4 linked regions of the Homo sapiens genome follow. The protein of the gene in region 1 interacts with the protein of each later gene in a biochemical or structural test. Each region holds a gene or a part of one and is shown in the gene's direction. Other genes may lie near its edges.

Region 1 (2,935 bases):
CTGAGCAGCGAGCCGGGCCAGTCCCAGCGAACGCACATCAAGACGGAGCAGCTGAGCCCCAGCCACTACAGCGAGCAGCAGCAGCACTCGCCCCAACAGATCGCCTACAGCCCCTTCAACCTCCCACACTACAGCCCCTCCTACCCGCCCATCACCCGCTCACAGTACGACTACACCGACCACCAGAACTCCAGCTCCTACTACAGCCACGCGGCAGGCCAGGGCACCGGCCTCTACTCCACCTTCACCTACATGAACCCCGCTCAGCGCCCCATGTACACCCCCATCGCCGACACCTCTGGGGTCCCTTCCATCCCGCAGACCCACAGCCCCCAGCACTGGGAACAACCCGTCTACACACAGCTCACTCGACCTTGAGGAGGCCTCCCACGAAGGGCGAAGATGGCCGAGATGATCCTAAAAATAACCGAAGAAAGAGAGGACCAACCAGAATTCCCTTTGGACATTTGTGTTTTTTTGTTTTTTTATTTTGTTTTGTTTTTTCTTCTTCTTCTTCTTCCTTAAAGACATTTAAGCTAAAGGCAACTCGTACCCAAATTTCCAAGACACAAACATGACCTATCCAAGCGCATTACCCACTTGTGGCCAATCAGTGGCCAGGCCAACCTTGGCTAAATGGAGCAGCGAAATCAACGAGAAACTGGACTTTTTAAACCCTCTTCAGAGCAAGCGTGGAGGATGATGGAGAATCGTGTGATCAGTGTGCTAAATCTCTCTGCCTGTTTGGACTTTGTAATTATTTTTTTAGCAGTAATTAAAGAAAAAAGTCCTCTGTGAGGAATATTCTCTATTTTAAATATTTTTAGTATGTACTGTGTATGATTCATTACCATTTTGAGGGGATTTATACATATTTTTAGATAAAATTAAATGCTCTTATTTTTCCAACAGCTAAACTACTCTTAGTTGAACAGTGTGCCCTAGCTTTTCTTGCAACCAGAGTATTTTTGTACAGATTTGCTTTCTCTTACAAAAAGAAAAAAAAAATCCTGTTGTATTAACATTTAAAAACAGAATTGTGTTATGTGATCAGTTTTGGGGGTTAACTTTGCTTAATTCCTCAGGCTTTGCGATTTAAGGAGGAGCTGCCTTAAAAAAAAATAAAGGCCTTATTTTGCAATTATGGGAGTAAACAATAGTCTAGAGAAGCATTTGGTAAGCTTTATCATATATATATTTTTTAAAGAAGAGAAAAACACCTTGAGCCTTAAAACGGTGCTGCTGGGAAACATTTGCACTCTTTTAGTGCATTTCCTCCTGCCTTTGCTTGTTCACTGCAGTCTTAAGAAAGAGGTAAAAGGCAAGCAAAGGAGATGAAATCTGTTCTGGGAATGTTTCAGCAGCCAATAAGTGCCCGAGCACACTGCCCCCGGTTGCCTGCCTGGGCCCCATGTGGAAGGCAGATGCCTGCTCGCTCTGTCACCTGTGCCTCTCAGAACACCAGCAGTTAACCTTCAAGACATTCCACTTGCTAAAATTATTTATTTTGTAAGGAGAGGTTTTAATTAAAACAAAAAAAAATTCTTTTTTTTTTTTTTTTCCAATTTTACCTTCTTTAAAATAGGTTGTTGGAGCTTTCCTCAAAGGGTATGGTCATCTGTTGTTAAATTATGTTCTTAACTGTAACCAGTTTTTTTTTATTTATCTCTTTAATCTTTTTTTATTATTAAAAGCAAGTTTCTTTGTATTCCTCACCCTAGATTTGTATAAATGCCTTTTTGTCCATCCCTTTTTTCTTTGTTGTTTTTGTTGAAAACAAACTGGAAACTTGTTTCTTTTTTTGTATAAATGAGAGATTGCAAATGTAGTGTATCACTGAGTCATTTGCAGTGTTTTCTGCCACAGACCTTTGGGCTGCCTTATATTGTGTGTGTGTGTGGGTGTGTGTGTGTTTTGACACAAAAACAATGCAAGCATGTGTCATCCATATTTCTCTGCATCTTCTCTTGGAGTGAGGGAGGCTACCTGGAGGGGATCAGCCCACTGACAGACCTTAATCTTAATTACTGCTGTGGCTAGAGAGTTTGAGGATTGCTTTTTAAAAAAGACAGCAAACTTTTTTTTTTATTTAAAAAAAGATATATTAACAGTTTTAGAAGTCAGTAGAATAAAATCTTAAAGCACTCATAATATGGCATCCTTCAATTTCTGTATAAAAGCAGATCTTTTTAAAAAGATACTTCTGTAACTTAAGAAACCTGGCATTTAAATCATATTTTGTCTTTAGGTAAAAGCTTTGGTTTGTGTTCGTGTTTTGTTTGTTTCACTTGTTTCCCTCCCAGCCCCAAACCTTTTGTTCTCTCCGTGAAACTTACCTTTCCCTTTTTCTTTCTCTTTTTTTTTTTTGTATATTATTGTTTACAATAAATATACATTGCATTAAAAAGAAAGTGGCCCTGTGGATTTATTCACCCAGTTCTCCTGTTGGATGATTTGGCAAATTTGAGCACAAAAGACATTGTGGAGTGCTGATTGCTGTGATGTTTTTGTTTTTTATCAGCACCTTTGGCAATCCTAGAAAACAAGCTGAGGAAAAGACTGTATCTCCAAAAATCTAGGCAGAAAAATCTTGAAAAGTGCCACTCCAATAGATCACACAGAAAATTACATGTCAGTAGTTGCTCACTCTGGCAAAAATGTTTGTTGTGGTTTTCATGACCTCATGCTTCAGGGCAAAAGCTGTCCCTTGTGGAGGTCACAGGGAATATTAGACCTGAAATCAGGAGCTTGTCAGTAGACAGAATGCCAGAGGGGTGACTTGCTTATCTGGTTTTAATATGGCAAACTTTCCGTTCCTATGAACACATACCCAAGAAATGGAGTATCCACTTAAAAAGCAAAGGAAGCCAGAGAAAATCAGTGTCTACAGGGAACCAGAGAGAAGCCTGTCGTATTAACCCATTAAATGATTCAG
Region 2 (7,038 bases), about 34 Mb from region 1:
GAAGTAACTTGATCAAGGTTGCCCAAACTTAGTAAGTGAATAAGATTTAAGCTCCAGCAAAACTGGATTTTAACTCTGGCTTTTTCACTTATGAGTCAAGTGACATAGAAATAGTCTCAACTCTTCTGAAGATCAGTTTCTTAATCTGTAATACAGGGACTGATAGTAATAATGCCTGCCCTACTTGTGTCATTATCTATTAAGGACAATCAGTGAAAGCACTTTACAAATCCTAAAGTCACACACATTTAAATTATTTTTATCATTGGCCTCCACACTTCTCTTATACCATTAACCAAATGCTGAAATGTCAGAGAAATTACTGTCACTTGGTTGACTTTCTCCAAAGGAACTACATTACCCAAGAGATTCAGTCTGAGGGCAGGCTACGGATTTTTTTTTTTTTTTTTTTAATGACTGGTATTTTGAAAAACAAGTCCAGCAAACAGGCTGCTTCTCTCTTGTTTGATGTGGTCAGAATTCCTTCTTGGTCATGTGACCCCCTAACATTTCTTGATGCTTATTTTAAAAACACAAACAAACCTGTTTGGTTTTTGCTTTCTTTCTTTTTCAAATTAACCTTGGACACTATGGAGTTGACCGGAAGGGCAGGGTGGGAGATAGCATCTTACCTGGGTGCTGGTGGGAGAGCTATCGTCTGAAAAGCTCTGGGAAGTGAAAGATGGAAGAAGGAAAGTTGAGTTACTCAGACATCTGGTGCATCCTAACCCTAAAGCACCTCTCGGGGTTCCTGATGCTCTCAAGCACGCCTGGGTTCAGAATAAGAGGGGCCAGTCCTTTCTTCATAATAACTTTAAAAATTATTTTGAGGCTGGGCACAGTGGCTCACACCTGTAATCCCAGCACTTTGGGAGGCTGAGGTGGGCACATAACCTGAGGTCAGGAGTTCAAGACCAGCCTGGTCAACATAGTGAAATCCCGTCTCTACTAAAAATACAAAAATCAGCCAGGCGTGGTGGTAGGTGCCTGTGGTTCCATCCACTCGGGAGGCTGAGGCAGGAGAATTGCTTGAACCCACAAGGCGGAGGTTGCAGTGAGCAGAGATCATGCCACTGCACTCCAGCCTGGGCAACAGAGCTGGACTCCACCTCAAAAAAAGAAAAAAATTATTTTGAAACTATAAGTAGTAAACTAATGTATCATGGAAAAAGTGTAGGTGTGTTTAAAACTGATCGCGCCCTTATAATTACAATTAGAGTTAATGGGAAAACATTGGAAACATTTCTGATAACATCAGAAGCAAAATAAGCACATCTATTACAGCTGTTATTGTTTAATACTGTAAGTTCTAAGCAATATAATAGGACATGTAGACATATCAGTACTAGCAAGGAAAAGACCCTGTTACCATCAGATGCTTGTATTACAATTACATACTTGGAAAAAAATCAATGAGGAAAAGACACTAGTAGGATTCAGTGAAGTGGTCATGTACAAAGTAAATACACCAAAATCAGTAGCTTTCTCATACTAATCTGTCATTAAAATATAATGGTGATTACAATATAGGATCCTTGACCAAAAAAGAAAAAAAATTTTGTAATGTGTACTGGAGATGTGGAAAAAGTAGAGAAACCTTGTAATGGCTAATCTCCCCCAACCCTTAGTAATTTCTGAAGCTGGCTAGTAACTCAGACAGTCAACAATAGATGCACCATGAGGGCAGGGATCACTGTCTGTTTTACTTACTGCTCTATCCCCAGCACCTAGAATAGTGTCTGTCCCACAGTAGACACTTAATAATTGTGTTTTTTTCTTTTTTTGTAGAGATGATTTCACCATGTTGCCCAGGCTGGTCTTGAACTCCTGAGCTCAGGCAGTCCTCCTGTCTTGGCTTCCCAAAGTGCTGGGATTACAGGGGTGAAGCACCATGCCCAGCCAATAATTGTTATTGAGTGAATGAAGGAATGAATTTGAGAACTAGTCATGCCAAGGAATCGCTAAGTCACATCGTGTTGGAAACTGCTCTTTGTGGTCCAAGTCCACCCATGTTTCTCTTGTTTTTTTCTCTCCATCAGATCTCAGTCTCAGGAGGAGGTTTGCCCCCAGTCAGCACCTTGACGAATATCCACAGCCTCTCCCACCATAATCCCCAGCAATCTCAAAACCTCATCATGACACCCCTCTCTGGAGTCATGGCAATTGCACAAAGTAAGTTCTATTCTTGGTTGGAAAACTTGGGGGCAGGGAGAAGAAGAATGGGAAGCAAATTAATGTGGTGAAAAATAACTGTAGGTCTCCTTCAAACTCACCCACGACTAGTAGATTTGGTTTAACTTCTTTAGTTTCTCATCTGTCTCCTTAAATCCAATATTTGGATTGTTTAGCCTAAAACAAGAGAAAATTGTGGAATGGATTTGGATCCTGGTCACAGTTTAGCAGCTGTGCATCCTGGGTCAAATCATTGAACCTTCAGGAGATTCAATGTCCTCATCTATAAAATAGGTTGTTAAAGTGATCAACTGACAGTGAATATGAACATGCTTATAAATCTCTAAAGCATGAATATGTATAACATCGTAGCTTACACTTTGTCTTGAGTTCATTCCTATCACTAAGTAGGTGGTAGATTTTTCAGGAGGTTCTTTCTGTTTGGTGATGATGAAGTAAGAATGACAGGTTTCCTTCTAAATGGGGAGTTTTGTGTGGTATATGAAATCTCCTTGGCCAGCAGTGAAAATACACCAAGGGAGGATCCAGAGGGAAACTGCCATTGTATCTGAGAGCTTTGAAAACTTTAAGGAGAAAAAGCTTGCTTTGGCACATCACACGCCTGAAGACACGGAGATGGATCAGGTCCCTCCAGCTCCAGGAGGCTCATATTCAACAGCAAGCCTGTGCCCTCCCATACATGGGCCATCTTGAGGCATGAGAAGGCTGAAGGGAACTGTGGTTGTGGATATCTCTTTGAGAGTTTTAATGTTGATGAGTATTCAGCATATTTCCAGCTTCACTATGACAGCTCAGGTGTCGTTGTTTCTCAAAACCATCCTTGTGACCCTTGGATGTATTGCTGGATGTCTTGGGAGAGATCTAAGGGTAACACATTGGTCATCTTTCTTTCAACCTTGTATTGCTCCATTGTCCTCTTACCTTCCTTGTATCTAGGGCTCATGTTGGCCACCTCTTTGTTTTGTTTCTGCCTTTTTCTTTCTTCCCTCTTCTCTCCCTAAATCAGCTTTAGCTAGGGTCGGAACTTGGATTCTCACTTCTGAAGAGAATGACTTACACATCCTTTGAGGTCAGAACAGGGCTAAGCCCATTGGAGGCACACAAATTTATTGAATATGTGTGGCTCTCACTCTATCCTTAGCTGCTTGGAAATTGACACACAGTGCATTGATTTTGGCAGAAGGAAAATGGGAATGGGGAAGCATTTAGAGAACTCACAATATAAATGATCATTTTAAATGTATTGCCTTTTGACTGGGCCCTCTGGTATATGGAATATGGTAATTATACTAATACCAGAGTTTGGAATGAGATAAGATACCTAAAACCAGCTTGTTTGCCATTTAGAAGATTTGATTAAAAGGCCCGTGGGGAAGATATTCCACTTATTTCTGCAACCAAAATAATAAACAAACTGTCCCACTTAACTTCTTTCTTTCCATTCTAAGCTTTCACTGCCATACAGTTATATATATATATATACTATCTGAATTAAAATTTTCCCTGGGGCTAGTCTGCATCTTTCCATTTTGTTCTTTCTAATTTCCTCTACTCATATTTCTCTATCATTTCACGATGCTCCTTAATCTCCTATTCAGATGGGCTGCACCAGAGTGCACACTGACCTCAGAAGGATGGCTGTGTGTGTACATATCTGTGTACACTTGGGGTAGACAGAGCATGAGAAATGGTGAGAATCACCAGAAGACTGCTGAGACACAGAGGTCCTACACTATGGAGTGTTAGGATGAGAAACTGGTTGCAGGCATCTTCATTTAACTGACTGATGTGTTGAGTACCATGGGCCCTGCCTCAGAATTGCGGAAGCCTGTGGAGAAGGTGGTAACAAATTATTTGGCAGGGCCAATTCCTTATTCTCTACTCATTCTCACCTCTTCATCCTATTCTCTTTCTCATCTCTTCCCTGGACTGGATAGCATACTTCCCAAGCAAGAACCAGTGCCCAGAAACAGAAACAGATGAAAAGGTCAAGACTTACCCACTGAGGGAGCTGGAATGACATCAGAGGCTCTCAATCCTGGAATTGAGGCACATCAGGATCACAGACTGCATTGAAAATAAGATTCCTGGGCCCCACCTCTGAAGGTTCTGACTCATTAGGTCTTGGGTGGGGCCCAGGAATGTATATTTGTTAAAGAGCTCCCCCAGATGATTTCTGAAGCACATGCAGGTTTCAGAACTATGCCTTCAAATGTCATCCACTCTAGACAGGATCATTTGCTTTTTTGGGCAGCAGTTTCTCAAAAAGAGCAGCAGCAGTGCTCTCAAAGATTTCTCAAAAACGGCACATTCATGGAGCTTTCTGGGAGACTGAGACCATAAGCAGGAGGTAGGAAAGGGAAACACGGTCATCGGTCATCAGGGTATCTGGTGAGATGCTGGCTTGAGGAGACGCTGAGCCCCCTGGGGAACTGGAGACAGTGCTGTTCTGAGGGTGATCAGAGGGTGGCACCCCCAGCCCCCACCCAGGAGAGCCAGAAGCAGGATTCATCCCCTGTCCTTTCTGCTCAGGGGTCTCGCCTTTTAGGTTTCTGATAACAGTATCAGCTAAAGCTCTGAGTAGGCAATTGTTGAGGACTCCGTGTTATCTCCATTGATGACTTCCCTCAAACCTGCCTATGAAACCGTCTCCATTTCAGGAAAGCCTCTCTAGGTGTCCCTTCCACATCCACCTAAAACAGACCTTTTTCTGGATTCCTTCTTCATCCCATTCTTCCCCCAACTTCCCAGAAAGCAAGAACACAGGAACACAATCGACCCCAGGAAGCAGGTCCAGGTGTCTTCTCTCCTGATCGTCCTGTCCCCACTCCGATCCTACCTTAGCTGTCTTCCTCCGTGTCGCTCTCAGGGAGGAGATAGAGCATGGGTACCAGGGGATCCAATCCTCAGAGTGCTGGCCCGGGTTCTAAAGAGGCCTCAGGATACACAGTTCCAAGTTACAGAGGCCCTGACATCTCCAGAACAGAAAGATGGGAAGACCCACTATAAATGCCAAGAGTCAACCTTTAATGTACTACTTCCTCTTTCTAAAACCTGGTCCTTTTAGTGCCACAAGCCCTATGCTGCCACATAAGATATGCCCGCCTCGCAGACTGGCTGAGTTCCAGTGTTTTCTCCCCTCTCTGTTACAGTCAAGGGAGTTGGCACCTGATTTCTCTGGGGGTCTTTGTACAGTCTACTAAATAAGGGTCTCCCAACCTCATACTCCCGGGACTATGGAAGTTGTTTTTAGTCAAAATTTGGGTCCCTGCACACTCCTGCCCTCTACTGGACAGACCGATCTGGGCAATAACCTGTGCCTCAGTGTGGACATCTTTAACTCTGCCCTGCGGGCACCAGGGCAAGCCTCTCTCACAGCCTGGCATGGATGGAGTGGGCAGGTAGAGCCAGCTTTTCCAAAGCCCTGGTAACCTCAAGAGAGCTAAGTTTGGGAGGTCACAGGATGACTCTGGGAGACTCTCAGGCTTTAATCAGATCTGTTTAATGCCCATCTCCAACCCACAACTCATTGTGGAACTTGAGCAAGTAAATTAATATCTCCAAGTCTCCGTTTCTTTACACTTGCCTCCCATGGAATCTCCTATGTAACAGGCTCAGCCCGGTGACTGGGACATTGAGCGGGGGCTCAAATGATGGCATCCATCCACCTCTCCTTATCCCAGGAGCTGTCTGTGATCTTTTCCTCTTGCTCCCACAGGCCTCAACACCTCCCAAGCACAGAGTGTCCCTGTCATCAACAGTGTGGCCGGCAGCCTGGCAGCCCTGCAGCCCGTCCAGTTCTCCCAGCAGCTGCACAGCCCTCACCAGCAGCCCCTCATGCAGCAGAGCCCAGGCAGCCACATGGCCCAGCAGCCCTTCATGGCAGCTGTGACTCAGCTGCAGAACTCACACAGTAAGGACACGGGCATGTGGAGGGAGGGAGCACTCAGGACCCTCAGTGGCCAACCACTTTCCCTCTCTGGGTCTGAACTTTCTCGGAAGTTTATTGGCTTGGTCACTTTTCCCTGCCTATGATCAACCGACTAAGACAATTTCTCAAGCATAACTCTTGAGTGTTGCTGTACCTTTTCTAGTCCTCTTCTCTACCCCTGAGATTCCCAGGGAAGGGTTTGAAGAGGACAGTGTAGGCCTACAGATGAAGGGGAATTGGAGCCAGACAGCATGTGGAACACACACCGCCAATTTCCCATTCCAACACCTCTGGAAAAGATCGCGTCCATAAACCACCAGCACCTTTTCCCAGTGAACTTCAACTTAGCCTTTGCAATCTAAACTTCCAAGCAGCCATTATCAAATGATCACAATTGGCATCTAATTTGCATCCTGTTTGCCTTCCCTAAAAGAGAAGAATCTTCTAGAGTCCCGTGTCCTCCAATTTATACACCCCAAACATCTCTAATCAAGAACCATGAACACAAGTGAAAAATACCAGTGGCATGCCATCCTGGGCATTAGAGTTTCTTCCTCCATGCCACCCCTGCATCTCTGCACACAGACTGTTTCTCATATCCAATTTCTATACCTACCCCAAGCCTACCTTTCGACCACTTATTTCCCATCCAATCCCATCCTCTGTTTCTCTGCCTTTCATCCTGAGTCCCAGGCTTCCAATCCTCTGGCCAGGTCTGGCTATAGCCCCTGACACAGGAGTTTGGGGAGGAATCGTGGCTTCTCTGCTTCAGAAACCCCAAGGAAGTGTTCAGTATAAAGCACTAGTCTTAGATCAGACAGACCTGGATTTAAATCCTGGCTGTGATACTTACCAGCTGTGTAGCCTAATGCAAGTTACTTAGCCACTCTAAGTCCAATCTCTACATCCATAAA
Region 3 (7,038 bases), on another chromosome or scaffold:
TCTTTAGCCTGGACTCTTGGTCACTCCCTGGAGCCTCAGCCCATCCTTGGCCCATGTGACCCTTTCTTTCTTCCCCAGCACCACCAAGCGCCCCAAGTCCATCGATGACAGTGAGATGGAGAGCCCTGTTGATGACGTGTTCTATCCCGGGACAGGCCGTTCCCCAGCAGCTGGCAGCAGCCAGTCCAGCGGGTGGCCCAACGATGTGGATGCAGGTATGGGTGCGGGGGATCCTGACCCAGAGCAAGGGCAGCCCAGAGTCTTTTTGTCCCCTTCTCAGTTCACCTGGTGAGCCTCCCACCAGTTGTCCCCCTGTCGGGGGGCATTACCCATCTGTTTTCTTGCCTCCTGATCTTCCAGGGAGGGCAGAGCAGGCTGAAGGAAGGGAGTGGAGGTGAGGGTGAGGAGGGGTGCTGTGAGAGTCAGCAGCAGAGCCCGTGGTATGGCGGTGGGAAGCAGAGGGGGTGCCAAGCCTCTGGTGCCCCACAGTGGGATGGCCGCAGCCCCTCCTGGTATTTCTCTAGAGGTTGCCCCACCCCGTGGCCTCATGGTTGAAAGCAGTTTCTCACCCTGGGGGCTCATCATTCTGTGTAGGGGATTGTTCTGTGCATGGCAGGATGTTTAGCAGCATCCCTGGCCTCCACCTACAAGATGCCAGCAGCAAAACCCCCACCCCCAGTTTTGATGACCAAAAACGCCTCCAGACATTGTCAGACGTTCCCTAGTGGGATGGAATCCTCCCAGGATGAGAACCACTGGTCTCAAGGGCCCAGCTTCACAGAGAGAGGCTCAGAGTCTAGTGAAGAATGAGCAGAGTCCTTTTGAGACCAGGTAGGGAAGCTAGCGAAGGGGAGAGAGTACAGAGGAAGCCAGCTCAGACCTTCCCAGTCTCCTCTAGGGATCTTCTTCTTGTTGAACCCACCCCCCTTCACCTCCATTCTTGACTGAGGGTGCAGACAGACCTAGAGAGGACTCTGGAAGACAGCATGTAACACGTGCGTGTGTGTGTGTGCATGTGCATGAGCACATGTGTGTGAGGAGGCTGGCCGCAAGAGTCCCCCGCTGACGTGCCAGTGGTACAGCCCGTGTTTATCCTCACTGTGGGTGTGACAGGGCCTGGGAGTGCAGACTCACGCGTGTGGGTTGTGCACAGGGCATGGCTGCTCTGGACAGGCCTGGGCCCTGGGCATCATTCTCCTCCTCCAAAAGGTGAGGGTCTGACCTAATGGTACTTTGTCTGATGTTTTCCAGATATGCCCCTACTGGGAAGGGCCAAGTGGGCAGGCAGAGTCTGGGGTGGAGCGAGGTGGGGCTGGGAAGCACTCCTGCTTTTCTGCTGCCCCAGAACGAATGCAAGTTCTGGCAGCTTCTCCTCCTCCTGGGAGGAGGAAAGGAGGGCTCGCCTCCAGGCCTCAGGCTGAGGGAGTGGGCTGGAGACCCTCTAGATGGCCAGCAGAGGCTGGCCTCTGTGAGAAGGCTTCCTTGCGTGACTCTGGGGCCCCTCCCAGGCTCTCCTCGTGGCAGGCAGGGACTTGGGCCAGCATGGGCCACATGCTTCCCTAGGGGAGCCTTGAGAGGCAGAGAGAGGAGTTGAGAAGGCCCGGGAGACTCTTGGGCTACATCCTGGGTCCCTGGCCGGGGCCTCAGTAGGTGACCCCTTCTGCAAGGACTGCCCCTGGGGTGCATAGAGGACTGTGTCTGCAGCTGGCTCCTGGGGCAAGGGCTCCTGGGCTCCTGTGCCCAGACCTAATTCCTGAGGAGCCCCCCTCTTCCTGGCTCCTGCTCTCTCCTTTCTTGGCTGTCTGCTTTTGCGCCTGCCATTTCTGCATTTCTGCTCCTTCCGGCAGTCCTGCCACGCACGGCCCCTCAACATCCTCCTGCAGCACCCTCCGGCTCCCTTTTCCCCTCACCCCGCTGTGTGTTGTTTTCATGGGCTGCAACAAATTGCCAATTAAGCAGCCCAGCTGCAGGACAGGGAACAGCTGGGGAGGCACTGTGCGGCCATGGGGACAGCTGTGCACAGCTGGTAGGATGCTCCCCCCTCCCCACTGTGCCAGCTATCAGGTGGCACACAGCTGCTGCCAGATAACACCTCCGCTGGCGGCTGGGAGTTCGCCCTTCCCCCGCCCCTTCCCTCTGCAGTTAAGATGGCTCTTTATTTCTCTGTTCTGCAGCCCCTCCACCCCTCACCCAAACTGACTTGATTTGTCCTCCAAGGGTGGCAGCTGTGAGATCTGCCCCAACTCTACCTTATCCTTCCCAGCCTGGGCACAACCTTAAAGCTCAGCCCAAGATGGGAGCTGATCTTTCCAGAAGAACCTGGCCCCCTGGGGGCCCTGCTTTGTCATTTGGATGCTATGGCCACTGGGCAGAGATGAATTTCTAAAGACAGACTTCAAACAAGGTGTTCTCTGTGCCCTTGTTTCATGCTGAATGCCACCCACACCTCTGGCACCAGAAGCAGGGCAGAGCCCTGAAATTATCCATCCTATGGCAGCTGAGCTTCTGGGTCCCCTGGCTGGGGGAGTCTTCTCCCCTCTGGCTCTGCCTGCACAGCCCGGCTAGGCCTGAGCAGCCCAAGGACTCTCCAGGTCCTCTGGCCTCTGTCCCTGCTCTCTCGCTGGGCATTGTGTCCCTCCTGAGGGCTCATGGCTGTGTGCTCCCTTCCCTAAACGGGGCCCTGGCTTCTTCCCACCAGAACCTCCCATGGCCCCGGGCACCATGGCATAGACCCCAGCCTGTCCCTCCCAAACTTACCCCTTCCCGGCTCTCAAGCTGGCGCCCTGGGGTTCCTCCTGCACTCCTTTCCCAATGTTGGTCCTGCATCCCACCCTTTCACTTCATTACCTGCTTGCCAGGGCATAGGCTGGGGCCCTTGCTCACCCCCTGCCTGGCACACACCACCCCACATTACCCAGGGGCCTCGTTTTCCTCTCTGGTTAGAAGCACCCCTTGGCTGGCCTACACACAGGGCCTCGGAACCAGGCCTAGAACAAGGCCTGGGACTGGGCAAGGAGCAGCAGGAGGGAGCACAGTGGAGGAAGGGGCAGTGGGGAGGGGCTGAGGAGAGAAGGAGCGAGCTGCTGGCTTCCCGCCTTCCCCGCACCCACCCCAGCCCAGCTAAACCTGCCCTGTGTTGCTGCTTCCTCCCCCCAGGCCCGGCTTCTCTAAAGAAGTCAGGAAAGCTGGACTTCTGCAGTGCCCTCTCCTCTCAGGGCAGCTCCCCGCGCATGGCTTTCACCCACCACCCGCTGCCTGTGCTTGCTGGAGTCAGACCAGGTGAGAAATGGGGGGCCCCGGAGGGGGGCAGTTGGGGAGGTGGCTGAGTATCTAGGGGCAGCTGGCCAGGTGAAGGGGCCAGAGCTGACCCCGAGTGACAGCCCCACGCTCTCCAAGTGGGCCAAGGTGCAGCAGCGGGTGGGCATGGGAGCCGGCCCCTGCTTCACGTAGCACCTCATCGAGGACCAGGCCGGGCCCCTGGGCTGCCCACCTGGCTCCTGAGCAACCTCCCACTTCTCACTCCTCACGTGCATGGGTGCTACATACAACACAAGCCTGTCCCGAGTCCTCCCCAACTCTGGCCCAGTTCTCCTTTTGTCCTGCCAGCTGTGAGCGGGAAGGCACAGCCTTCTGCTCTGCCTTCCTGCCGGCTCCTCTCTCCCAGCTCCTGGCTGAGCCCAGGCTCTGGATTTTTGCCAGCATGAGCCCAGGTTGATGTGGGGCCTGGATGGAGAAGAGTACTCCTAAGGAGCCCAGGCTCCTGCGGCAAGTAGCTACCTTGTCTGGGCCTCCCTGCCGCTTTCTAGAAAGGAAGGGCTGGGTCTAGGGGACAGGTGGTACCTGGGCTGCTCCCCAGGAAAAGGAACTGCCCACTGCCGTGGGGCTGCTCTCTGACTTCAGTGTCCCAGTTGAGAAGGTGCTCAGGATGAGAACACCTAGATCGCCCTGAGGAGATAGGATCAGGCAGGAGGCTGTGGGAGCTGAGACCTCAGCCCTGTCACTCCTTCACTTTCTTCTTCCCTCTCTGGGCACCCACCTGGCAGCAAGAGGCCTGGACTTTTTCTGGATATGGCCCTATGTCCGCCTGCCATCTCCTGGGCTCGTATGTAGGACACAGAAAATGAGGAGGTTTACCTCCTGGCTTCCTCCTTGGGGCCTCCTGGCTGGGAGCCCAGAGGCAGCCGGTGCTGGGGCAGGGTGTGGTGGCCGCGAGGTGGGGGTGGGGAGCCCAGGCCCTCTACACAGGCAGCAGGAGGGCGCAGGCCTGGCTCCTCCGGCTCCACCTCAGCTTTTATGAACTCCAGAGAGAAGCCAAGTTTCCTCAGCCCCCTAATGAAACCGAGAGCAAGAGCGAGCTGATTGGAAACAGACGGGAGGAGGAAGAGCTGGGGCCTGCTCTGGGTTGGGAATTGCGTGTGCAAGGACGCGTATGTGAGGACACGTGTGTGAGTGATGAGGCTGAGCACATGAGAACACCGCCTAGGTGGCGGTGGCTGGGTGCACACCAGCTCGCACTCAGGAGATGTGTGTGCATATGTCAGACGGCCATCCTGAGCAGATGCTGGCTTTGTCTTCATCCAGAGCCCCAGGGAACCCTCTGCCTCCTCTTGTCCCCCACCCAGTCTCCCACCCAGGGCCTGAATTAAGGCAGGGCTAGTGAGGCACTCACCTTAGGTGCAGAGTGTCAGCAAGTATCAAAAACTCAGTCATCAAGATAAATAATATTTTAATGGAATATGTTTTAAAATCCAAACTATTGCAAAAAAAAGGGTATGGTAAGCAAACACCAGTTTTTTTGTTTGTTTTTCTTTTTCTTTTTTCAAAGACAGTTTCCTGCTCTATTACTCAGGCTGAATGCAGTGGCACGATTATAGCTCACTGAAGCCTTGAACTCCCAGACTCAAGTGATCCCTCCTGTGTGCCACCCTGGCTAATTTTTAAATGTTTGTTGTAGAGACGGGGTCTTGTTATGTTTCCCAGGCTGACCTCCAACTCCTGGATCAAGTGATCCTCCCACCTTGGCCTCCCAAAGCACTGGGATTACAGGTATGAGCCACAGCACTCAGCCATGTCTTTGTTTAAAATGGTTTAAAATGTTGAGGCTGGGCACAGTGGCTCATGCTTGTAATCCCTGTACTTTGGGAGGCCAAGGCAGGAAGACTGCTTGAGGCCAGGAGTTCGAGGCTGCAGCGAGCTGTGATCATGCCACTGCACTACAGCCTGGATGACAGGGCGAGATCCTGTCTCTATTTAACAGATACTGGCTGGGCGCGGTGTCTCACGCCTGTAATCCCAGCACTTTGGGAGGCTGAGGTGGGCGGATCACAAGGTCAGGAGATCGAGACCATTCTGGCTAACACGGTGAAACCCTGTCTCTACTAAAAATACAAAAAATTAGCCGGGCGTGGTGGTGGGCGCCTGTAGTCCCAGCTACTCGGGAGGCTGAGGCAGGAGAATGGCGTGAACCCGGGAGGCAGAGCTTGCAGTGAGCTGAGATCGCACCACTGCACTCCAGCCTGGGTGAGAGAGCGAGACTCAGTCTCAAAAAAAAAAATTCTTTAGGCTGGGCACAGTGGCTCATGCCTGTAATCCCAGCACTTTGGGAGGCCAAGGCAGGCAGATCACTTGAGCCCAGGAGTTTGAGATTAACCAGGACAATATGGCAAAATCTCATCTCTAGAAAAAAAAAAAAGCAAAAATCTACCAGGCCTGGTGGCGTGCACCTGTAGTGCTGGTTACTTGGGGGGCTGAGGTGGGAGGATTGCATGAGCCCAGGAGGATTGCTTGCCGTGATCCGTGTTTGTGCCACTGCACTCCAGTCTGGATGACAGAGCGAGACCCTGTCTCAAATAATAATAATAACACTTTTTTAAAAAGCCAAATAAAATAAAGACAAGATCCTACCCTGCCTCATCTGCCTCATCCTAATCTCCCAGCGCTGGTTGTGATCAAACTTTATTTACAAAAACAAATGGCTGGCCTTTGGACCCTAGTTTGCCTATTTGATTATTATTATTATTATTATTTTTGTATTGCATTAAAACATCATGGATCCTGATGACTGACTTTTTTGTGCCGCCTTAACTTTTGTGCCTGTGGCGGCTGCCTTACCTGCTCAGGATCCTCAGGACCCTCTGACCGGCAGCTCCCCTCCTCTCCTGTCCCTCCCACTGGCTGCCTCCTTGGCCCTGACGCCCTTTTTTCCCTGCCCACGTGCATGCAGGGAGCCCCCGGGCCACAGCATCAGCCCTGCACTTCCCCTCCACGTCCATCATCCAGCAGTCGAGCCCGTATTTCACGCACCCGACCATCCGCTACCACCACCACCACGGGCAGGACTCACTGAAGGAGTTTGTGCAGTTTGTGTGCTCGGATGGCTCGGGCCAGGCCACCGGACAGGTGAGTCCAGAGGGCCCCAGGAGCCCGGCTACAGCCTCATCTCCACATCTATCTGTCTGTCTCAGGGCTCACAGGGAGAGGGCCCAAAAGCCAGGAGCCCACCTGGGGCTGGAGCAGCAGGGAGCTGGTAGTACCAAACGCCTCGATTTTCTGGGTCTGGGGACGGGGGTCTGTGTATTATGCCAGGGCTTGTCTATCATGGTCCGGAGAGGTGGGGGCAGCATCTGGGCCCCCTTGCTCAGTCAGGCTCCTTGCCTTTCCCATGGTCCTTGCCCCCTCAGCAGGAGTGAACTCATGATGATCCAACCCGGATCTGGGCCCTGACCTCCCAGCGCTCCTCTTAAACCTCGGGGCTGCAAGGATTTGCTAGATTCTAGACCAGGGTTTCCCCAGTATCAGCACTGTTGACATTTGGGGCTGTTTATTCACTATTGTGTGAGACCATCCAGTGCTCTGTAGGATGTTGAGCAATATCCCTGGCCTCCACCTGCTAGATGCCAGGAGCACCTCCTCCTCCCCAGTCTTGATAATAAAAAAAAGTCTCCAGATTTCAGTGTGCCCAGGAGGGGAAGACCATCCCTAGTGAGGAGCACTGTGTCAAGGGAAAGCCCCGATCCACATAGCTGCCACGGAGACTCC
Region 4 (7,128 bases), on another chromosome or scaffold:
TAGTAATCAGACTGTTGTTTCACATCCTCCAACATGAGGCAAGACTGTTTCCTCAGCAATTTTGCCCTTATCAGATTATCTCGTCTGATTCTATTAATTTTCTTCCATGAATCTGCTAACAGTGATTTGTGATTTACTTACCCTGCTAACTGAAGACTGTTAAAAGGATTTATCTAACACTGGACCTAAGAACAGTGTACGCCTTATCGTTCAGTTACTCTGAAGAACTCTTTCTCAAATCAATTTAGTTGGTTTCATAGTGAAATTTAGTGGACACTGGTTAGTTCTGCCCCATAAAATCAGCCCCTAAACAAAGAGTCCAGACACCATACCTGATGCATCCCATTCTATTCAGATTATGGATGTCTGATTCCAACATGATATATTTGAGTTGCTATAACTCACAATCGGGGAAAATATATTCCTTTAAGCTTTTAATCTTTGTAATTTGGACATGAACAGGGGTTTTGTTTTTCATTTTTGCATGAAGTCATTATGTATGTACTGACGTGAAACTATAATTGTGTTTCTGATGTTACTGTGTCACAATATTCTATGCGATGTAACCCATGTCCTCCTCCCCCTCACAAATCTCCTATAAATATTCATTGCTTTCAAAAACTTTAATACTACTGGTCCGAATTGGTCAATAATGACAAATGCATGGTTTCTAAATTACTGTATATTGTTCTACAGAGATTACTAGAGTATATATAGCAAGGGGATGTTAAGCAGTAAGAAAACACAGTTCACATTGTATTTGGATTAGATTGGCTTGGATAGAAGTGAAACAAACAATGTTAGCAAAGAAGTCTAAAGACATGTGGCCCACTGTAATTGTACAGAATCAAAAACCTGAATAGTACTCATTAAAATGAGAGAGCTCAATTGTTATAAAAGAAATGCTGCTAACAGAGAACTGTAAATGTTTAGACACCCCTGTGAATCACTAAATAATAATGTAAAAAGGATAAAAATGAGAATTAAGTTATAAGCCTGAGAGCATTACTGCTACACATCTAAAAAAATAATTCTGATCCTCTCTTTTTTTTTTCCAAGAGAAAATGGGCGACTATAAAAGACCTTGCAATAAGAGAAATAAAAATACCATGTCTTCACAGCAGTGTACATAAATAAACCATAAAAATGTGCAGATAATAATATATTTAGCTGCCCAAACATGGGCATTTAATTTCTAGAAATGATATATAACAATGTAACAATTAGATACTCAGCCATGAATGTGTATGGCACAGTCTTCATCATTAGCAAACTTTGTGTATAAAATATTATTTATTATTTATTATAATACTGCTTTCAGAGGCAATGATCATACCTTACAGCTTTTAACACAAATATGATGCAAAAGGATTAAAAGTATATCATAAACAAACAATAAATTCTTTCTAAATACACTTAAATTCATATTTTACATGAAAAATATAAACTTCCTACATTTGTGACTACTGACTTTTAAAAAGACCTAGAAAACTATTGTTACGGGCAATGTTAAATGACATAATGCTTATGTAATGGAAAGTGTGGATTTTCCTCTAAATAAACTATAATCCCTTAACTTCATTACTAGGGAAAATATTGTTAAAGAGAAGGAAAGCAAGGGAATTCTGCTAGGTTGCATAAATATTGACATAATCTTCACTCTTTCTTCCCCAAACTGGTAATAGACATAGTTTATTCCACCCAACAAAATGCTCTTATAAGACCAAAACTACCCTTATTAACAACTTCTCTGCAGTCACGATGAAAAGAAACACTACTTGTCTGAAAAATACCGACAGCGCTGCCCTTTTCAGATTAGGGTGTGCCTACGAATCTTTTGGGAAGTCTTCCATTAAGGATTCCTGGGTTTGCTGAAACTGAAGTCTACTAGGATCAGAGAAATTAACACAGGTCTAATATGGTGCAAGGAACGAGTGAGAGACACCTGAGGTTATAAATAGCAAAGCATGCTGCGGGGTGGGGAAGACCATTCTGAAGTGCAATGTTCAAGACGCTGGCTTAATATATGACTAAGTGTCAGAAGTCAGGTTTTCTGAGAATTACTTTCCAGATAAACAACTTTATAGCACTGCACTTAATCTTACTTACTAGAGACATCTCATTTATCACTGAATTACAAGTAACTTTAATCCTATTGATATTGCCATAAAGCCCGTTGAAAATCCATCCTGGCACTTTTAAAGGGTTTGGGGCCCTGTTACATGGGGATCCTCTTGCAAAGGTCTCAGCCAGAAATTACACCCCGAGGGTGTCTGTATCCCCTGGCCTCTTTGTCAACAATCAAGGAGAAGAGGAGGGGCAAAAATGATCTCTGCATCTGCCAGCACTTTCTTCGGCCCCTTTCCTATAGGGTCGGGTTCTCCCACTTCAGTCAAACTAACTTTGTGTGTCTCTTTCCTCCTCCCACACTGGGTAACCAGCTGCTTTTCACTTCATCGACAAAACTGGACACGGATCAATTTCAACTGACCTTTGCCGAAAGGTGGCGCTGTTGAGGTAAAAACCAACTCGCTCCAACAATAGTTTCCACTCTTCGATCCTTTTGCAGGCTTTTCAGAATTTTTTTTTTTTTTTAATGCACCCTCCTAGCGTCTCCCCCTTCTCATAAAGTAAAATAAATACGATTAAAAACACCAAATGCATTTCATTAATTGAAGGAATCAACAGTCCCAACTTCTAAGCAGACGGGCTGGTCTTCCAAAGGCTGGGTCGGTTTCAGGAGCTTTCTCTCCAAATAAATCTCTGCTTCTTCGACTTGCCTATCGCTTTAAAATCTTAGAAACAGAGTTAGTTGTTGGTTTCCTTCTTTTTTCTTTTTCTTTTTTATTTCTTTTTTGCATAAACTTTTAGAGAATCAATCTAGAAATTTGAACTACTTATTAGCATTTGCAACTGGGGGTGGGGGGAGCAGCCTCCCCCACCCCACCCCCCACTCTGCGTTTCCGGACTAGTTCCAGAAACCGCGGTTTAAAATTTAACCCTTCGAGGGTAGCTGGTGAGGGCTGGGGTATTGTTTTTCCCCCTTGCTCCCTGCCACGATCAAGTCCGAAATAATTAAAGGAAACGTAAAAGTGCAAAGGGCGCGCCTGACCCTGATAAACAGAGGTCAGATTTCGTAAGGGGACGGGTGAGTGTGAGTGTGTGTGTGTTTGTGTGTGTGTGTGTAAGAGAGAGAGAGAGCGAGCGCGCAATATGAGTCTCAAAGGCCAAACTCCGGCCAGTCAGGAGCCGGAAGGCTGAGCCCGGCTGACCTGACTTTGAGCTTCCCCGGAGTTATCTCGCATAGGCGCTCGCTCTGTCCAAGGGCACGCGACGCCAGCGGGCAGCCGGTCTCCGTGAAGAATGGCCTCTAAACAACTTATTTTACCTCGTTGTAAAGAGAGGGATAAAATGGGCTTTCCCTCTCCACGGATGCCCAGCCTTCTGGGCAGGCGCATGGCCGGGCGGCGCCCAGCCCGCAGCCCCGATCCGGACACCCCACTGCATCCCTCCCTTCCCGGTCCCTTCCCCGCACGGGCGCCCGAGAGACGGACAAAGAGTTGGGGCCAAGTTTGAGCGCCGGGCACGGCCAGGCTCAGGGAAGGAAGGTCCCCGGCAGACACCTGGGTACCAGAGTTGGTGCGAGGAGGAAAAGCTGGGAGGCGAATTCACAATCCTGGGGGTGGAGGGCAGGCAGGGGAGGGGAATCAGGCCAATCCCAGCCGAGTGAGCCCCCAGCGAGCTGGGGCTCCGGATGGGAGGCCTGTCTCGCGCTCCAAAGAAAAGCAAACCGCCCTCCCAGGTCCGCCCGGATTGCCGAAGCCCCTCTGGAAAAACTCCTTCCCCTCTTACACCAAACTTTGCGCCGGGCCTCGTTCCCTCCCGGGTAGGCAGCGGCGCAGGAAGGGTTAAGCCAGCCCGTCCCAGCTGACAGTCAGCTGATTGGGCCCTGATTGACAGCTCCGAAAAGTTTCCTTGTTTCTATACTATTATGCTAATCGCGGCCGCTCTCGCCGCCTCCCATTGGCCCGGAGTGCCAGTCAATTTCTCATTTGGACCTGACGTCACGAGTGCTATAAAACTCAGCAATTGCTTTAAACTCTTCTTGCTGGATCAGAGGCTTTAAAATCTTTTTTCATCTTCTAGCTGTAGCTCGGGCTGCTTGTCGGCTTGGCCTCCCCCTCCCCCCTTTGCTCTCTGCCTCGTCTTTCCCCAGGACTTCGCTATTTTGCTTTTTTAAAAAAAGGCAAGAAAGAACTAAACTCCCCCCTCCCTCTCCTCCAGTCGGGCTGCACCTCTGCCTTGCACTTTGCACAGAGGTAGAGAGCGCGCGAGGGAGAGAGAGGAAAGAAAAAAAATAATAAAGAGAGCCAAGCAGAAGAGGAGGCGAGAAGCATGAAGTGTTAACTCCCCCGTGCCAAGGCCCGCGCCGCCCGGACAGACGCCCGCCGCGCCTCCAGCCCCGAGCGGACGCCGCGCGCGCCCTGCCTGCAGCCCGGGCCGGCGAGGCGAGCCCTTCCTTATGCAAAGCGCGCAGCGGAGCGGCGAGCGGGGGACGCCGCGCACCGGGCCGGGCTCCTCCAGCTTCGCCGCCGCAGCCACCACCGCCGCCACCGCAGCTCGCGGAGGATCTTCCCGAGCCTGAAGCCGCCGGCTCGGCGCGCAAGGAGGCGAGCGAGCAAGGAGGGGCCGGGGCGAGCGAGGGAGCACATTGGCGTGAGCAGGGGGGAGGGAGGGCGGGCGCGGGGGGCGCGGGCAGGGCGGGGGGGTGTGTGTGTGAGCGCGCTCGGAGGTTTCGGGCCAGCCACCGCCGCGCAAGCTAGAAGCGCCCCAGCCCGGCAAGCTGGCTCACCCGCTGGCCACCCAGCACAGCCCGCTGGCCCCTCTCCTGCAGCCCATCTGGCGGAGCGGCGGCGGCGGCGGCGGCGGCGGCAGGAGAATGGCATCAGAACTGGCAATGAGCAACTCCGACCTGCCCACCAGTCCCCTGGCCATGGAATATGTTAATGACTTCGATCTGATGAAGTTTGAAGTGAAAAAGGAACCGGTGGAGACCGACCGCATCATCAGCCAGTGCGGCCGTCTCATCGCCGGGGGCTCGCTGTCCTCCACCCCCATGAGCACGCCGTGCAGCTCGGTGCCCCCTTCCCCCAGCTTCTCGGCGCCCAGCCCGGGCTCGGGCAGCGAGCAGAAGGCGCACCTGGAAGACTACTACTGGATGACCGGCTACCCGCAGCAGCTGAACCCCGAGGCGCTGGGCTTCAGCCCCGAGGACGCGGTCGAGGCGCTCATCAGCAACAGCCACCAGCTCCAGGGCGGCTTCGATGGCTACGCGCGCGGGGCGCAGCAGCTGGCCGCGGCGGCCGGGGCCGGTGCCGGCGCCTCCTTGGGCGGCAGCGGCGAGGAGATGGGCCCCGCCGCCGCCGTGGTGTCCGCCGTGATCGCCGCGGCCGCCGCGCAGAGCGGCGCGGGCCCGCACTACCACCACCACCACCACCACGCCGCCGGCCACCACCACCACCCGACGGCCGGCGCGCCCGGCGCCGCGGGCAGCGCGGCCGCCTCGGCCGGTGGCGCTGGGGGCGCGGGCGGCGGTGGCCCGGCCAGCGCTGGGGGCGGCGGCGGCGGCGGCGGCGGCGGAGGCGGCGGGGGCGCGGCGGGGGCGGGGGGCGCCCTGCACCCGCACCACGCCGCCGGCGGCCTGCACTTCGACGACCGCTTCTCCGACGAGCAGCTGGTGACCATGTCTGTGCGCGAGCTGAACCGGCAGCTGCGCGGGGTCAGCAAGGAGGAGGTGATCCGGCTGAAGCAGAAGAGGCGGACCCTGAAAAACCGCGGCTATGCCCAGTCCTGCCGCTTCAAGAGGGTGCAGCAGAGACACGTCCTGGAGTCGGAGAAGAACCAGCTGCTGCAGCAAGTCGACCACCTCAAGCAGGAGATCTCCAGGCTGGTGCGCGAGAGGGACGCGTACAAGGAGAAATACGAGAAGTTGGTGAGCAGCGGCTTCCGAGAAAACGGCTCGAGCAGCGACAACCCGTCCTCTCCCGAGTTTTTCATGTGAGTCTGACACGCGATTCCAGCTAGCCACCCTGATAAGTGCTCCGCGGGGGTCCGGCTCGGGTGTGGGCTTGCTAGTTCTAGAGCCATGCTCGCCACCACCTCACCACCCCCACCCCCACCGAGTTTGGCCCCCTTGGCCCCCTACACACACACAAACCCGCACGCACACACCACACACACACACACACACACACACACACCCCACACCCTGCTCGAGTTTGTGGTGGTGGTGGCTGTTTTAAACTGGGGAGGGAATGGGTGTCTGGCTCATGGATTGCCAATCTGAAATTCTCCATAACTTGCTAGCTTGTTTTTTTTTTTTTTTTACACCCCCCCGCCCCACCCCCGGACTTGCACAATGTTCAATGATCTCAGCAGAGTTCTTCATGTGAAACGTTGATCACCTTTGAAGCCTGCATCATTCACATATTTTTTCTTCTTCTTCCCCTTCAGTTCATGAACTGGTGTTCATTTTCTGTGTGTGTGTGTGTTTTATTTTGTTTGGATTTTTTTTTTTAATTTTACTTTTAGAGCTTGCTGTGTTGCCCACCTTTTTTCCAACCTCCACCCTCACTCCTTCTCAACCCATCTCTTCCGAGATGAAAGAAAAAAAAAAGCAAAGTTTTTTTTTCTTCTCCTGAGTTCTTCATGTGAGATTGAGCTTGCAAAGGAAAAAAAAATGTGAAATGTTATAGACTTGCAGCGTGCCGAGTTCCATCGGGTTTTTTTTTTAGCATTGTTATGCTAAAATAGAGAAAAAAATCCTCATGAACCTTCCACAATCAAGCCTGCATCAACCTTCTGGGTGTGACTTGTGAGTTTTGGCCTTGTGATGCCAAATCTGAGAGTTTAGTCTGCCATTAAAAAAACTCATTCTCATCTCATGCATTATTATGCTTGCTACTTTGTCTTAGCAACAATGAACTATAACTGTTTCAAAGACTTTATGGAAAAGAGACATTATATTAATAAAAAAAAAAAGCCTGCATGCTGGACATGTATGGTATAATTATTTTTTCCTTTTTTTTTCCTTTTGGCTTGGAAATGGACGTTCGAAGACTTATAGCA

The links.
Region 2: the proteins of SOX9 (region 1) and HNF1B form a complex in vitro, tested with the Homo sapiens proteins (one study listed by BioGRID).
Region 3: the proteins of SOX9 (region 1) and NFIX form a complex in vitro, tested with the Homo sapiens proteins (one study listed by BioGRID).
Region 4: the proteins of SOX9 (region 1) and MAF form a complex in vitro, tested with the Homo sapiens proteins (one study listed by BioGRID).

Annotation. Positions count from the first base shown.
Region 1 is NC_000017.11:72,124,010-72,126,944, forward strand, and holds the end of SOX9 (transcription factor SOX-9), read left to right. Parts: coding exon 1-378; 3' UTR 379-2,407; downstream 2,408-2,935. UniProt on the Homo sapiens protein: Transcription factor that plays a key role in chondrocytes differentiation and skeletal development.
Region 2 is NC_000017.11:37,700,051-37,707,088, reverse strand, and holds part of HNF1B (hepatocyte nuclear factor 1-beta), read left to right. Parts: exon of another isoform or gene 1-2,039; coding exon 2,040-2,172; exon of another isoform or gene 2,173-2,349; intron 2,350-4,192; exon of another isoform or gene 4,193-4,264; intron 4,265-5,911; coding exon 5,912-6,106; intron 6,107-7,038. UniProt on the Homo sapiens protein: Transcription factor that binds to the inverted palindrome 5'-GTTAATNATTAAC-3'. Binds to the FPC element in the cAMP regulatory unit of the PLAU gene. Transcriptional activity is increased by coactivator PCBD1.
Region 3 is NC_000019.10:13,075,457-13,082,494, forward strand, and holds part of NFIX (nuclear factor 1 X-type), read left to right. Parts: intron 1-78; coding exon 79-215; intron 216-3,156; coding exon 3,157-3,279; intron 3,280-6,223; coding exon 6,224-6,399; intron 6,400-7,038.
Region 4 is NC_000016.10:79,597,714-79,604,841, reverse strand, and holds the start of MAF (transcription factor Maf), read left to right. Parts: upstream 1-4,104; 5' UTR 4,105-4,939; coding exon 4,940-6,057; coding exon of another isoform or gene 6,058-6,061; exon of another isoform or gene 6,062-7,128.